Homo sapiens: one gene and its partner. The protein of the gene in region 2 purifies or fractionates together with the protein of the main gene of each other region. This does not show direct contact. Each region holds a gene or a part of one and is shown on either strand. Other genes may lie near its edges.

What was found.
Region 1: the proteins of GSC (region 2) and DSG4 purify together in Homo sapiens (affinity purification with mass spectrometry; 2 studies listed by BioGRID and IntAct, with this or other methods). This does not show direct contact.

Annotation. Positions count from the first base shown.
Region 1 is NC_000018.10:31,386,744-31,393,777, forward strand, and holds part of DSG4 (desmoglein-4 isoform 2 preproprotein), read left to right. Parts: coding exon 1-76; intron 77-1,623; coding exon 1,624-1,779; intron 1,780-2,130; coding exon 2,131-2,275; intron 2,276-3,912; coding exon 3,913-4,079; intron 4,080-4,334; coding exon 4,335-4,469; intron 4,470-5,411; coding exon 5,412-5,597; intron 5,598-7,034.
Region 2 is NC_000014.9:94,767,723-94,775,049, reverse strand, and holds GSC (homeobox protein goosecoid), read left to right. Parts: upstream 1-4,936; 5' UTR 4,937-5,034; coding exon 5,035-5,389; intron 5,390-5,832; coding exon 5,833-6,092; intron 6,093-6,400; coding exon 6,401-6,559; 3' UTR 6,560-6,827; downstream 6,828-7,327. UniProt on the Homo sapiens protein: Regulates chordin (CHRD). May play a role in spatial programing within discrete embryonic fields or lineage compartments during organogenesis.

The sequences.
Region 1 (7,034 bases), on a different chromosome or scaffold from region 2:
AAAGCGGGAGTGGATCAAGTTTGCCGCAGCCTGTCGAGAAGGAGAGGACAACTCGAAGAGGAACCCCATTGCCAAAGTAAGTGATGAAGCAATCTGATGACAAATGCTTTTGCAGAGCAGGGAAGCTTTCAAATATCTCCAAGATTTGCAGGCTTCACTGCTCCACAGTTATTTAAGAAGACAGAATGTGGTCATTTGCTCCAGTTGCTGAGCCACTGATTTGAATATCATGTGCAGGGAGGCTGACGTGGGGCAGGCAGTCAATGGCAAGTGATTCTAGAAGAAAGGGCTGGATCTCCAGCACAACTGGGCTTTGTTCATCCATTTGTGTACTGCTCATTATTGCCTGTCAATGTCATAGGAAACGTATTCACATAGTGACAGTCTGAAGCCTGGCCCTCCAGAAAGTCAAGCCAAGTTTACTGCACTAGATGAATTAACTCCAGGAAAGTAAGGATAGTATCAAAAGTTCCCACCAGATCTCTACATCCAGAAAATAAGAGAGTCTTATAAGACTTTCACAAATAATGCCTACTGAAAAGGAAGGAGAGTTAAAGAATGTGTAATAAATTGATCCAGGAAGGATGGGATCCACATTAATAGCTTCATTCACTCTTTCTGGACATCTTGATCCTGAACAGTAAAGTGATCTGCAGAATTCCCTCCTTCCAGCTTTATATTAAAAACATAGTAAGCATCAGCAGTGGTGTTACAGATACAACCTCAGCTCAAGAAAACAGATGTATTCTCTCTCAGATGTTTTCAAATTGGAGGGACGCTTTTAAATTATTATTTCCATTCAACTCAGTAATTGCTTTATGTTATTCCACTTATATTGCATATTCTTTTCTTTTTCTCTGCATTTTGGGAGGTTCTTGAGTTTTCTTCTATGTAAAAAGGGCCTTTGGATTAGAGTTAAGCTAACCAAAGTTCTATTTCCAGCAGTCTTTATTTGACTGTGAATGTGTGGGTAAAAAATCTTACTATTTTACTGAATGCTCTTATCGTTAGTATATAGGTGAGATTTCAAAATTGTTTCAGTTTAAATTTATCAGCAATAGGTAATAAAGCTACTAAAGCAAAATCTGTGTGGCAGAATATTTGCCATAAAATCTATTTGGCAGAAAAGTGATGCAGTATGTTTACATTTATAAAATTATTACAAATATCTCTAACCATTATAGTTTTCTGATATTCTCAACTTATCTACCATTTTGACTAAATCTCAGACTCCAGCTTAGGTAGGATACTTATTAATATGACACAAGTTATTTTTAAAAAATAGTAAATGTTGTAATTTCTTTTGTGAAGCTATTTCTGCGTATGCTAAAAAATCAGAGAATTGAACAATGTGTTATTAACAACAAACCTAGCACCAAGTGTGTATGTTATACACATTACCTCATGTAATTCCCACAACAAATCTGTGTGATATTATCCCCACTGTAAGCTGATCTGGGCAAAGTTAAGTAAATTTTCCAGGGTCACACAGGACTAAGTCATGGTGTCAGGTTTCAATCCAAAGCCCATTTGGTAAAGAAACCCACTCCCTTCTTATTCCACTACACTCTTAAGCATTATCTGCTCTAAACTGGATCACAATCCTAGCTATTTTTCTTATAGATTCGATCAGACTGCGAATCGAACCAGAAGATAACATACCGGATTTCTGGAGTAGGGATTGATCGACCACCATATGGGGTATTCACCATTAATCCTCGCACTGGGGAAATTAACATCACTTCAGTGGTAGACAGAGAAATAACTCCACTTTTCTTGGTAAGTCATAGCCATATGTTTTGATTTGTTCATATTAGTTTTCTTCCCTTTTTCAAAAAATATTATCTTAAGATAATGGATTACTTTTGATAAAACATGGCAGACTGAACCCAAATAGAAGACTTGAAGGAATGGAAAGAGTGTGAAAATAAAAGTTTATAGTTCAGGATTCTCTGGTATGTTGCATGTACATGTAGTCAAGTGTCCTGATCATATTTAAATTATTTGACTGTACTACAGTCTGAATTCACTGGAAAAAATTGTTTCTTTGCCTATTTTCTGATATATTTTCAAGCATGTTACTAAAATTCCTTTGGTGGAAAAAGATGGCTTTTTTCCAATTTTCCACAGATCTATTGCCGGGCTCTGAATTCACGGGGTGAAGATTTAGAAAGGCCTCTTGAGCTTAGAGTCAAAGTTATGGACATAAATGATAACGCTCCAGTCTTTTCGCAAAGTGTATACACAGCCAGCATTGAAGAAAATAGTGATGCCAGTAAGTAGAATGACATTCCTTCTCTACGTCACAGCATATCTACTTCTCTTGGTCAAAAGCTTTAGAGGACTGACATACAGGAAATGTAAAGGACAGAAAAAGCCACACTTGTATTTTGAATAAACCCCACATATTTTAATTTATAACTGAGCTAGAAAAAGAAATCATGTCTAAAATGATAAAATAAAATATCTTCTTACTTGCGGAAGGTCCCTACAGGGATTTAGCAGGTGCTTAGCACCTTGCTTAAAGATTGCTACTGGGCTCATGAAGAACTAAATCCAAGCGAGCAAACTGAGGAATAAACCAGGAATGTTTAAGAAGGCTCTGTTCTGGTCTCTTACTCAAAATGTTTGGCTGACCCACACCAGGTAGAGCGTGATGGTGGAAGCACACGCAATTGTACCCATCAGATCAATCACTAAGGGTAATCATTGATCTTCACAGACTACATAGCAAACTACATTCTATTCTCTCATTTTCTTTCATTTCTTTCCATTCCACTTAATTCCATTTCCAGTTCTAATACCCTCTGTCTTTCCTTTATATTAATTCTCCTGAACTTCTTTCCTTCCTACTCTTATGCTTTTCTTATATGGCTACTTTCCTATCTCTCCTCTCCCTTTGCCTTCTGACCTTGATTTTACATACAGCACATGAATATCAGTTTGTTCCCCAAACCCCTGTTGTCCCTTTCCCTTTCAAATCTATGTCTGCCCATATACCTCTAAACAAATTTGGGGGGAAATAATAGGAAAAATAAATTTCAGGAAAAAAGGCAGATAAACACAAAATTTTTTTTTGAACTAGGATAGTCCTCCCATAGAGAGGCAAAGAGATTTTGCCTAGGAGAGCCAACACAAAGAGAGACTCCGAAGTCCATCTTTGCTTCCTCATCAACACACCTCAAAACAACACTGGTGAAGGAAGAGAAGGTGAAACCCACAACCAAGTCTCCCTGCCTAGGAAGCAAAAGAACATCAGGGACCTGACAATTCTGAAAAGTCTGTCCTGTAGATTGACATCCTTGGGGATTTGCCTAAGATACCTGTTCTTTCTACCTATGAGTAATTAGGAACTTCTTATATTGCTATGGACAAGTCTTCTTTTCAATAATTATAAATTTGTGACTGTTTGGTAAAATGCTATCTTCCAATGCAACCAAGAGTAATTATCTGCTTTCTGGAAAAGTGGCAATTAAGAATATAGGTGTTCAATACATAATTATAATGTTGCATTTAATTAAACTATAATTTTCCTTAATTAAGCATTTTTAAATGATTTCACAAGACCATGGCAAAAAATAAAACAGATAAAAATCTGTTTATTCAGCTATATGATAAAGAATCTATTGAACTTCTTTTTCGTACTTTAAAGAGAACTATGTTTAGCCACTAATTTAGTATTTAATCATTTAAGGAGTGCAAGTACTTTTAAAACAGTAAAGGGTTTTATAAAGCAAACCACATTTTTTTTAATCACTGGTAGAGCTGAAAGTTATGGTACTATATTCCCATGGAAAACTCAAACAGAGAGAATTCAGGAGAAGGCCAACCACTCTGTCTTCTTATGCCTAATGATTTGCTGAATTTATTCTAAGAGTCCCAACCATTCTCCACCTCCATTTCTATTTCTAGATACATTGGTAGTAAAGTTATGTGCCACAGATGCAGATGAAGAAAATCATCTGAATTCTAAAATTGCCTACAAGATCGTCTCTCAGGAGCCATCAGGTGCACCCATGTTCATTCTGAATAGGTACACTGGAGAAGTCTGCACCATGTCCAGTTTCTTGGACAGAGAGGTAAAGCCTTCTGTGAATGAACAAGAACTAAAAAATTCAATTTTGAAAAGACAAAGATAAAATGATCCATGTGTACCCTTACTCCAATATAAAGGAGGGAAGAAAAATAATCCATTTTTAATAAAAATTAAAAGCTCAATTATATAAATTTCATTGGATATGTAAATAAAAGAGTAGAGAAATAATGGCATTGAATGCATTGGATTCTATTCAAGACAAAACCTAAGTCTTACGTTCTTTTTCATCTTGATTAAGCAACACAGTATGTACAACCTGGTTGTGAGAGGCTCAGATCGGGATGGAGCTGCAGATGGACTGTCTTCTGAGTGTGACTGTAGAATCAAGGTTTTAGACGTCAACGATAATTTCCCCACCTTAGAGAAAACTTCAGTAAGTTTGTATTCTTATCTTCCTTTTTCCATAAGTGTCAATAATCAATTTGCATAAGTGTCAATAATCAATCATGCTGGCTCATGAGCCTGGTTCTGTCCTATGTGTGGACATACTCAACTTTGTTATAGAAACTTTGGAATTTCTTATGTATACTAATATACCTTCAAATTGTATGTTTGTCTTTGACTCACTACTCCAAACAAGCCTTCTCTGTGAAAGCAACGAACTATCTATTCTGTATACTCTATTCACAGAAACACAGAAATCTGTTGATCTAACTCTGGGAATAACATAGCAACATTAATGTTTTTGTATATGCCTCATGATTTGCTGAATGAATTCTACTAGAGTCCCAGACAGTCTCAACTTCCATTTTCATCTCTAAGCATAAAGAAGCATAAAATCCACACTAGCAGGGCCAAATCTGGCTTGCTGTCTGTTTCGGTTTAAAAAAAAAAACAAAAAAACAAAACAAAAAACGTGTTATTGGAGAGCATAGCTGTCCTCATGCCTTTACATATTGTCTATGGGGGCTTTGTGCTGCAACAGCAGACGTGAGGGGTTGCAACACCAATTCTCTGGCCCACAATATCTAATATATTTACTATTCAGCCCTTTACAGAAAAAAATCTGGTCCTCTATCTAAAAGAAAAGAATAAATAAAGAAAATTAACAATAAGCAAAAATAAATAAATAAATAAAAGAGAAAGGAACAAAGTGCTAATTTGACCTTGATTTTACATACAGCACATGAATGTCAGTTTTATTATCTTATAATCATTTTATTCTTATTCTCCTGATTGGACTATGGGCATTTAATAATGGTGCAAAAATCATCGACATAGTTTGTTGTTAGTATTTTAAATAATAATAATGTGTTTTAAGTACGTTTCTTCTTTTGAAAATTCATTGACTACAAAATTGATCCTTGCATTTTAGTACTCAGCCAGTATTGAAGAGAATTGTTTAAGTTCGGAACTGATACGATTACAAGCAATTGATCTTGATGAAGAAGGCACTGATAACTGGTTGGCTCAATATTTAATTCTCTCTGGAAATGATGGGAATTGGTTCGATATTCAAACAGATCCACAAACCAATGAAGGCATTTTGAAAGTTGTCAAGGTACAGTATAAGGATCTGCAATATTTTCTTCCAAAATATTTTATTCCAAAGAAGTTTTAAATGACCTTAGAGACAGAATCTGCCTTTAAAAAAAAGTACTTCATAACTTTGAATATTGTTTATATCAAGGGTCCTAAGTAACTGCTATGTCAGTCTGAGTCTCCTAGCTAGCAACACAAAACTTATTACCAAGAAAAATATGAAGACTGTTTTGTTCTGACAGTGTCCAATATCTAGTTGTGAAGATAAGGTAAGCAACCCCAAATTAGAAGATATATGGGAGTTCACAGTGCAATAAATAATACAGATGTCATGATATAAAACATAATTAATTGCCAAGGGAGTGGAATATGAAATAATGAAAGAGATAAGAAATGGTGAGATCCTTCTGAGCTAGATTTGTCTGAAAAGATTTCATGCAGGAAATAAGGCTTAAGCAAGATGTTATAGCTAAGATTGCTAATGTGGGTAATAAAATAAACAAACACAGAGTGAGAAAACATGAAGCAAGTTCAGGGCATGGTGAGCAACCCCGTGGGGCTGTAGTGGGGCATCAAGTAGGGAAGTAATCAGAAGTCAGATCAGAGAAGTGAAGCTGAAATCGATCTGCTGAGAACCTTGCATACTGAAATACCGGCTTTGATTTTTTTCTATAGATTAATTTTTCTTTAATTACTTGCTTTTAATTCACAGACAATGATAAAACTGAAAAATTTATAATTAGAAACGAATAAAACCACAAACCAATAAGATTCAGATTAACATTACTGTAATGAGGGAAATTGTTATTTTTTAACAAAGGAAATTGCTGCTAACAACATAAACAACACTTATAGCCAGGAAAATATATATTAAGACATATATGTACACACATATTTTTAGCTTACTACACAGTGTGATTGTGGAATTTACAGTGTGATTATTCAGTTCTGTTACTATTTTTCTCTATTCAAGCACATAAGGCTCTTTTTGTGTTACCATAAAGTAATAGCTGAGACTGGGTAATTTATAAAGAAAAGAGGTTCAGTTGAATCACCATTTTGCAGGCCATACAGGAAGCAAAGTGCCAACATGTCCTTCCAGTGAGGGCCTCAGGAATCTTACAATCATTGTGGAAGGCAAAGGGGGAGCCAGTGCATCACATGACAAGGGCAGTAGCAGAAGAGAGAAGGGGGAGGTCCTAGACTCCTGTAAACAACCAGATCTCGCAAAAACTCATTTATCACCAAGGCTATGGTGGTAAACCATTCGTGAGGGATCTGCCCGATCACCCCTCACCAGGCCCCACCTCCAACTTTGGGAATCACATTTAAAGATGAGATTTGTGGGTGACAGACATCCAAACCATATCATCAAGTTACTGTGAAGTTTTTTCAGATAGCATATTAGGAAGCCATTTAGCCTTCTGGAAGCAAACATATCGTTTATTCATTGGGT
Region 2 (7,327 bases):
TTCTCCCCCTGAGGCTGCCACTTGAAAGTTGAAATCTAGCAAGATTGTAATGGTAGGTACCAGCTTTCTGAATTACAGGGTGACTGCCTGGGCTGATCCTAAAAAGCAAGTGTCTTTTTTATACCGCATAAAAGGCTGAAATGTTTACATATCAAAAGGCTATAGGCCAATTTCTGTCAAAATTACACATGAAGTTAAGCAGTACAAGCAATTTATTTAAACACTAGTCATTGTAGAAAAATTCAAAACCATATGCTCTTTAGCAGTTTTTCACAAATGCATTTGACCCATGACTTGGCTAGACATACAAGCTTCATAATTTACTCTAAATTTCAAATCCCCTTGACGTTTAAATAAAAGATCTTCATTAATGAGGTTTACATGAATGAAAACTTTAGAAGCAGATATCAGTTAGCGAAGGGCTTCGTTCTAATTTTCAAATGACTGACTTTGCTAATCATTTCAAGAGAAACTTCTTCTGAGAACAAATTATCGTCATTTGCATTCTGTGACTTGCAAAAGCAAAGGTGCAGTCATTTTGAAACAAATTTTGGTAAATAGCCCGGCTGAAATCGGATTTCTGCAACCCCGGAAAGTCCAAGCTATTTATTTATTTATTTATTTATTTATTTATTTTTCTAAGGCCTTGGGAACACGTCATTTTTCGATAGCCCCTTCTTCTCTTCTCTTCTCTTCTCGTCTCTTCTCTTCTGTTGAGCTTCCCTAACACCTTGATTATTTCGTCCTTAGGGGATCGGGTGCTTTTATTTGGAGCGTTGGAAAACTTCTAGCAAAAAATCAGCTAGAAAGCTCCCTTACGCCCTCCGCTCCGAAAGCAGGAGACCCAGCTCTAATGCGCGCTGCCCCTTAGCCAGGAGGCATTTGCGCCTCTGGCTCTACTCCACCCACCCAACCTCACACGGACAATCCCCTGGGGCTACCGGAGATGTCCTCCAGAAAGCAGCAGAGCCATGGAACGGGGTTTGAGCACTTAGCTTTGAGACTGGATTTTTTAAAAGTCCCAATACAAACAACACAACCATTCCGCTCAGTGAGGACGGCTGAGGTCTCGGCGCAGCACGCGGGCTGCAGGGGGCTCTGCGCATTGCTCCTAATTCCTCTGACCCCGCTAATGCGCCCTCCGATGAGGGCTCCGTACCTTGAAAAGGACACACCGGCTTTTTGCACATGACACGAAAAATCCGACTTAAACGCATCCGATTGTGAACTCTGCTCTGTGGCCGGGCAGGAGACGGAGAGAATTAAGAAAGTTCCTGAAACGAACCGTAAGAAGTTGGGGTCGAAGATGCATTATTTTTTTACAGTTATGCGGAATGGGGTGTAAGGATAGTGGGGCGACAGTTTTCTCCCTGACAAAAATACCTTGGGGCGGGAGAAGATACTCACACGCATACTCCAAAGTTGGACACTGTTTTAAATCAGAGAAGCAATTTAATCTACACTCTATGAATCAATTTAGTGATGACCGCAGTGCAAAAGCGCCGTGACAGATGCCGAACGGCAAATAGACCTTATGCATGTGGAATCCGCTGAGCTATTCTTTAATATCTTAAAAATGAGGACTATTACTGGGGCGAGTGACTCCTCAACAAACACATTTTCATAGACTTCTGCGTGGTGATTGCTTTGTGTGAAATCGTGTTTGGGTGATAATAGGGAAAATCAGCGGCATGTTTACTGCATTTCCGACCTAAGCGCTCGCCGGCTGCCTCTGGACGCTCGCGGTCCTCCCATGCTGAGCTGTGCGTGCGGGGCCGACAAACAATCGCTTAGCAACACGAGGTGGACAATTTGCGTGCGTCGCATTTGTTATTCCAATTGCGCCAGGCGATGCGGGGCCCTGATGGTTTGTTTAGCACGTTGAGGACACTTGTGAGTTTCCGCCCGCCGAGGCGCAGTGCGAGCACCGAGCGCCGACTGCCTTTCCCGGGGCCTGCCTCCGCGCGGCTGCAGATTGAAGGGGCAACCCGATGGGGGAGGTCCCGCCGCGCAGGGGTGAGCTCCCCTAGAGCTCCGGCAGAGTGTCTGGAGCTGTGTGGCCTTGGGGTTCCTGTGACCCCCTTCCCGGAAAGTCCCCTCTGCGGCAGCACTCGCTTTTCCTTATTTTAGACCCAGCTGATGTAGGAACCCTGTCCTTGTCTGGGGGCGGAGGTGGGGACAGCACACTCCTTTGTCTCAATGAAAAATAAACAAGAAAATGCCCCCAAGTTCATCCCCAACCTCCTTGGCGAACGGATGACAATTACCAAGTCTCATTAAATGTTAGGGTTGCAAAGGGACCCAATGAATGTTGGTGTTGGTTTGATCAACTAAAATCCTGAGGCCTCCAGAGAAGGGATGATTTGCAAGGTGGCAAGGTTGGGTCTGCAACTCTGACGCTCAGATTCTGTACAGGGCTCAGCTGGTACAGCGGAGGGCTGCAGGAAAGCACAGGCGCAGTATAGCAGTTTGCTAAACCTGGTTATTAAAAAGAACAATGTTCCAGGTGGAAGGGGAGACGGAGGGGTGTGTGGAGGTGGTTGTCTGATACTTTTAAAAACATGGAGACACTTTTTTTAGGTCTGCGGTTGAAATCTTGACACTCTCCTGATTTGGCATCTTTGCAAGAACAGGACGAGGAATCTGCCCCAAGCGTCAGGTGGCACTTGTGCCTCTGCCCGGCTCAGACAAAGGTCTTAAAAGATCCACTCACACGCGCACCGCAGCGCACACCCAGCCTCCAACACAAACGCAGGCAGTCACTGATAAGTTGCAGCCTCTAGTTGTCGTCCATCAACTGCCCTGTAGCTTTAAACCTGGGAAAGATTGGTGGGGGAGTATCTGCCCTGGAGCATGGTGACTTAAGTCTCTGAGAACGGAACAACAATAAAAAAGACTTCATCCTAGTCAGTGGGAGATGGAAGGTGCCTCACTTCTTACCCTAGACCTGACCTCTCTAAGGGGAGGGTCACACTCCCTCTTTGTTTTTATTGTTAAAAAAGAAAAAAAGGAAAACTCTATTCACTTCCCCAAATTGAGACCCATCTCCGTCATGTCCTAATCCCCATTTACAACCACCTCTAGTTTGCGCAGCACTGGAAGGAGCAACTCTCAGGCCACAAGCTGGTGGCCGTGAGGACACAGAGGTCCACGCTGGGAGGCCTAGGAGGAGAAACGTCGCCGCCTGGCTCCACTGGGCCGCTTCTGCGCGCCGCCACAGTAGTGCCCTCGGACAGGACTAAACCTCCGTGCAATGGCTCTTTGAAACCCGAACAGAAATTGACAAGTGGGCTTTCCCCTTTGCCCCTGAGCCGGGGAGTGGGCAGCCCACTTACTTAGCCTTACGGCGGCGACTTCAGACAACTTTGCGGGGTCCCTTGGTTAATTAGCCTGAGAGAAATCGCGAAAAATAGGTGTGAGTTAAAGGCGGACTTCCTTCAGGAAACCCGAGGTCTCCCGCAACCCCATCTCCCTCTCCGGCTCTCGGGGGTATCGCCTGGGTCGGGTACTGCCCCTTCCCCTGGAGTGGCCTGAGTTGCAAGCCGGGAGCTTGCACCCGGTCCACAGGATCTGGGGGACTGCTTTTGTTCCGCGCGTACCGTCGCCTACCTTCTCGAAGGGCGCTCGGCCGCCTGCTTGCCGTGAGTGGTGGGCTGGCTGCGCCTCCCGTGGCTCGGGCAGGCTGGCCGTGCCATGCCGAGAATCCCGCAAATCATCGCGGCCGCCTGCCGCTATCAGACCCGGCCATCGTCCAGGCCACTGCGGCCCAGGGAATCCACTCTGGGCCTGCCAGGCGGAAGGGCAGGCCTACCGGCAGCCAGCAGGTCGTAAGGAAAAATGCGACCCAATTATTGGGGAAGAAGATAGGGAAGTCCCAAAGACCCCATCTGGATTGAAAATCAAAAAAATAGTTTGGGAGAGAAGGCACCACATTTCCAAAACTAATTTTTTAAAAGCACAAAAACTACCGACACCCACGCTGGGAGCAGCTAGAAGCACCGCTTCAGACTGCAACTCTTGGTGGCGAATTTTAAAGAGCGGCTGAATTTGGTCTTCGCTGTGTAGGACCTAGGGACTGCCATGGTAGTTTTCAGACCCAGAGTGGCTGGAAAAAAAAATCTTTTTAAGAAGCACGATGCACCCCTCCTTTAGTCGTTTTTGCCTTTACAAAATTTGGATTTTACAAAACCAAAAGTTTTTTGGGGGGGTTAACAAGTTCCATTCGGGAGAGAAACTCAAGATTTAAAAAAGAGGTAAATCAGGCGGTGAGTACGTGGGGGCGCGGAGGAGTGGTGGAATTTTCAATCCTGCTTGAGAGGGGATGCAGCCCCTCACATTTTCTAAAACAAAACCAATTCCGAAAGGGGGAAAAAAGTAGCCCCAAAGTAAAATCGTCCACAATGAATTTGAGCTACAGGCAGAGGAAATCGCACCCAATAATAGGACCCAATCTGAGAAAAAAGGGTGGGGGTGGAGAGCTCGGGCGGAGGGAGTTGTTAACTGCGGCGGCACAAAGGAATTAATGAGATTAACCAAGGCAATTAGGCCGCCCGCCCAGCTCGGCCGGCCCGCGGCCCGGCTGCCGAATGGAAAAGATTAGGTTAATTTCATTAATTCGCAATCCACAATCTCTTTTCAGGCCTTGTAACCCCCTCCCCTTGGCACCTCTCCCCCTCCCCCCAACCCTCTTCCCCCACCCAAAGGAAAAGAAAGGGCCAAATCTGGTTCTGTTTGTCATCTGCATATTACCAGGAACTAAATCCAGGATGACGTCGACTCAGTATAAAACCAACAAGAGGTTCAGCTGGTCTGAGCTCCGTCCTACCCGCGGGTTGAGTTCAGCGAACGCTGCGGCTAGGGGAGGGCGGGAGGAGGGAGAGCGGACGCAGGGGGCGGGGAGGGGCGCAGGGCTGCGCGCTCGCCGGCGCTCTCTTTCGGTTTGGTCGGCGGCTGGAGGAGAGTGGACCCCCCCACTTTAAGGCTCTGTCCTCGGCGCGTTCCCGCCGCCCCCCGGTCCCGACGCGGGGCTCGGGGATGCCCGCCAGCATGTTCAGCATCGACAACATCCTAGCCGCCCGGCCGCGCTGCAAGGACTCGGTGTTGCCGGTGGCGCACAGCGCGGCGGCTCCCGTCGTCTTCCCGGCCCTGCACGGGGACTCGCTCTACGGCGCCAGCGGCGGCGCCTCCTCGGACTATGGCGCCTTCTACCCGCGCCCCGTGGCCCCCGGCGGCGCGGGCCTCCCGGCCGCGGTCAGCGGCTCCCGCCTCGGCTACAACAACTACTTCTACGGGCAGCTGCACGTGCAGGCGGCGCCCGTGGGCCCGGCCTGCTGCGGGGCCGTGCCGCCGCTGGGCGCCCAGCAGTGCTCCTGCGTCCCGACGCCCCCAGGTAGGGTCGCGCTCGCTCCGGCCTCTGCCGCCCACTGCGGTCCTTAGCCCATGGAGCCGGTTGGTTAATTCACCTTCCTCAAACTTTGCTCCTCTTGCAACTCCCCCCTCCGCTTTTGCCGATCGGGCGCAGGAGTTTGCAAACTTCTTGCTGCAAACTTTTGGCCAGAGTTCGCGAAAACTGGAATTCAGTGCCTGCCCGGGGAAACTGGGTTTTGTTTTGTTTTGTTTTGTTTTGAATTCTCTTACTGGCTTTGGCGGGTGTGCGGATGGATGCTCTAACACGCCTCCTCCTTTTCCCTGCACCCCTGATTCCCGTGCACCCCCAATTCTCAGCATCCCCTTGCAGACGACTTCTAAGTGGAAGAGGGTCGGGGGCTGGCGGGCGTGCATGCGTGCGGTGGCGAGGGCGGGCGGCTGACCGTGCGCCCCACTCTGTCGCAGGCTACGAGGGCCCCGGTTCGGTGCTGGTGTCCCCGGTACCGCACCAGATGCTGCCCTACATGAACGTGGGCACGCTGTCGCGCACCGAGCTGCAGCTTCTCAACCAGCTGCACTGTCGGCGGAAGCGGCGGCACCGCACCATCTTCACTGACGAGCAGCTCGAAGCTCTCGAGAACCTCTTCCAGGAGACCAAGTACCCGGACGTGGGCACGCGCGAGCAGCTGGCCCGGAAAGTGCACCTCCGCGAGGAGAAAGTGGAGGTAGGCGCCGGGGCCTGCCGTGGGCGCCTAGCGGTCCTTCCCCGCGAGGTGGGGCCCCAGTCGGGTTTGCCCAGCCCTGCTTGGCTCTCCCCGCACTTTAAAAACATCCCGATGGCGGCCCGCAGGCTGCTGGAGGGCGCTTTAGGCCCAGGAAGTTGAATGAAAACGCGGAAGCGGGAGCGAGCGGCTCCCCTCCTTTTGTTGGCCTGCGCGGGGTGTCCCGCCGCCACACCAAGCTCCCCGGGTGCCCCGGGACTGGGGGAAGCGCGCCTTTGATCTGAACTGTTTTGTCCTCCGTTGCGCAACAGGTCTGGTTTAAGAACCGCCGCGCCAAATGGAGGCGGCAGAAGCGGTCCTCATCAGAGGAGTCGGAGAACGCGGAGAAGTGGAACAAGACGTCGTCGTCGAAGGCGTCACCGGAGAAGAGGGAAGAGGAAGGTAAAAGCGATTTGGACTCGGACAGCTGACGGCCGCGGGACACTTGCCCGTATTACTTACCTAACTCGAAGGACTTGCACAGACAGACGATGCTACTTTCTTGCACACGCGCTGCCTTGCGGGAGGGGGTCGAGAAAGAGGAACGAGGAGCTGTAAATAGTGTACAGAGCCGGGAGGGTCGGCGTCTGGGGTCAGGGCGCGCACAGCCCAGCAGCCCGAGGCCGCCCGCGACTAGCCCCCACCGTAGTATTTATAGTTAAATTAAGGGTGACAGTACAATAAAGTGATGGCGATGTAGACGGGCCACATTCTGTATTTCATACCCCCCGCCCCACCCACCCACCACCATCAGTCTGGAGCCAAGAAAAGAAGTCTATGTAGTCCGTAACCTCCGGAGGAAAAAACTGAGCAGCTATGATCTACCTAAACAAACAAACAAACAAGAAATGAAGCTCTGGGTAACAGTCACAGCATGGGTGTCCTGGTTTAAAAGGAAACCTTATGTCTAGGAAGGTTTGGAGAGTAGCATTGCTGGGCCAGAGCCGGGAGGAGGTACCATTGCAGTTGAGAGGGGCAGCCTGGGTCCCTGACTCCCCTCTGCCGAGGGCAGAAGGAGCACTTCTTCCCTCACTGATGAGGTGGGAGCTAGGGGAGTCCGGGAGCTCCCACGGAGCCCACTGCTCCAAGCTGCTCAGCCCTGCTTCTGAGAAACCTAAGGCGGCGGGTCCACGGGGGAATTAGGCAGCGGGCATGCCACCTCCCCCAGCGCTTTCCTGGAACTTCCACAGATGCTCCAG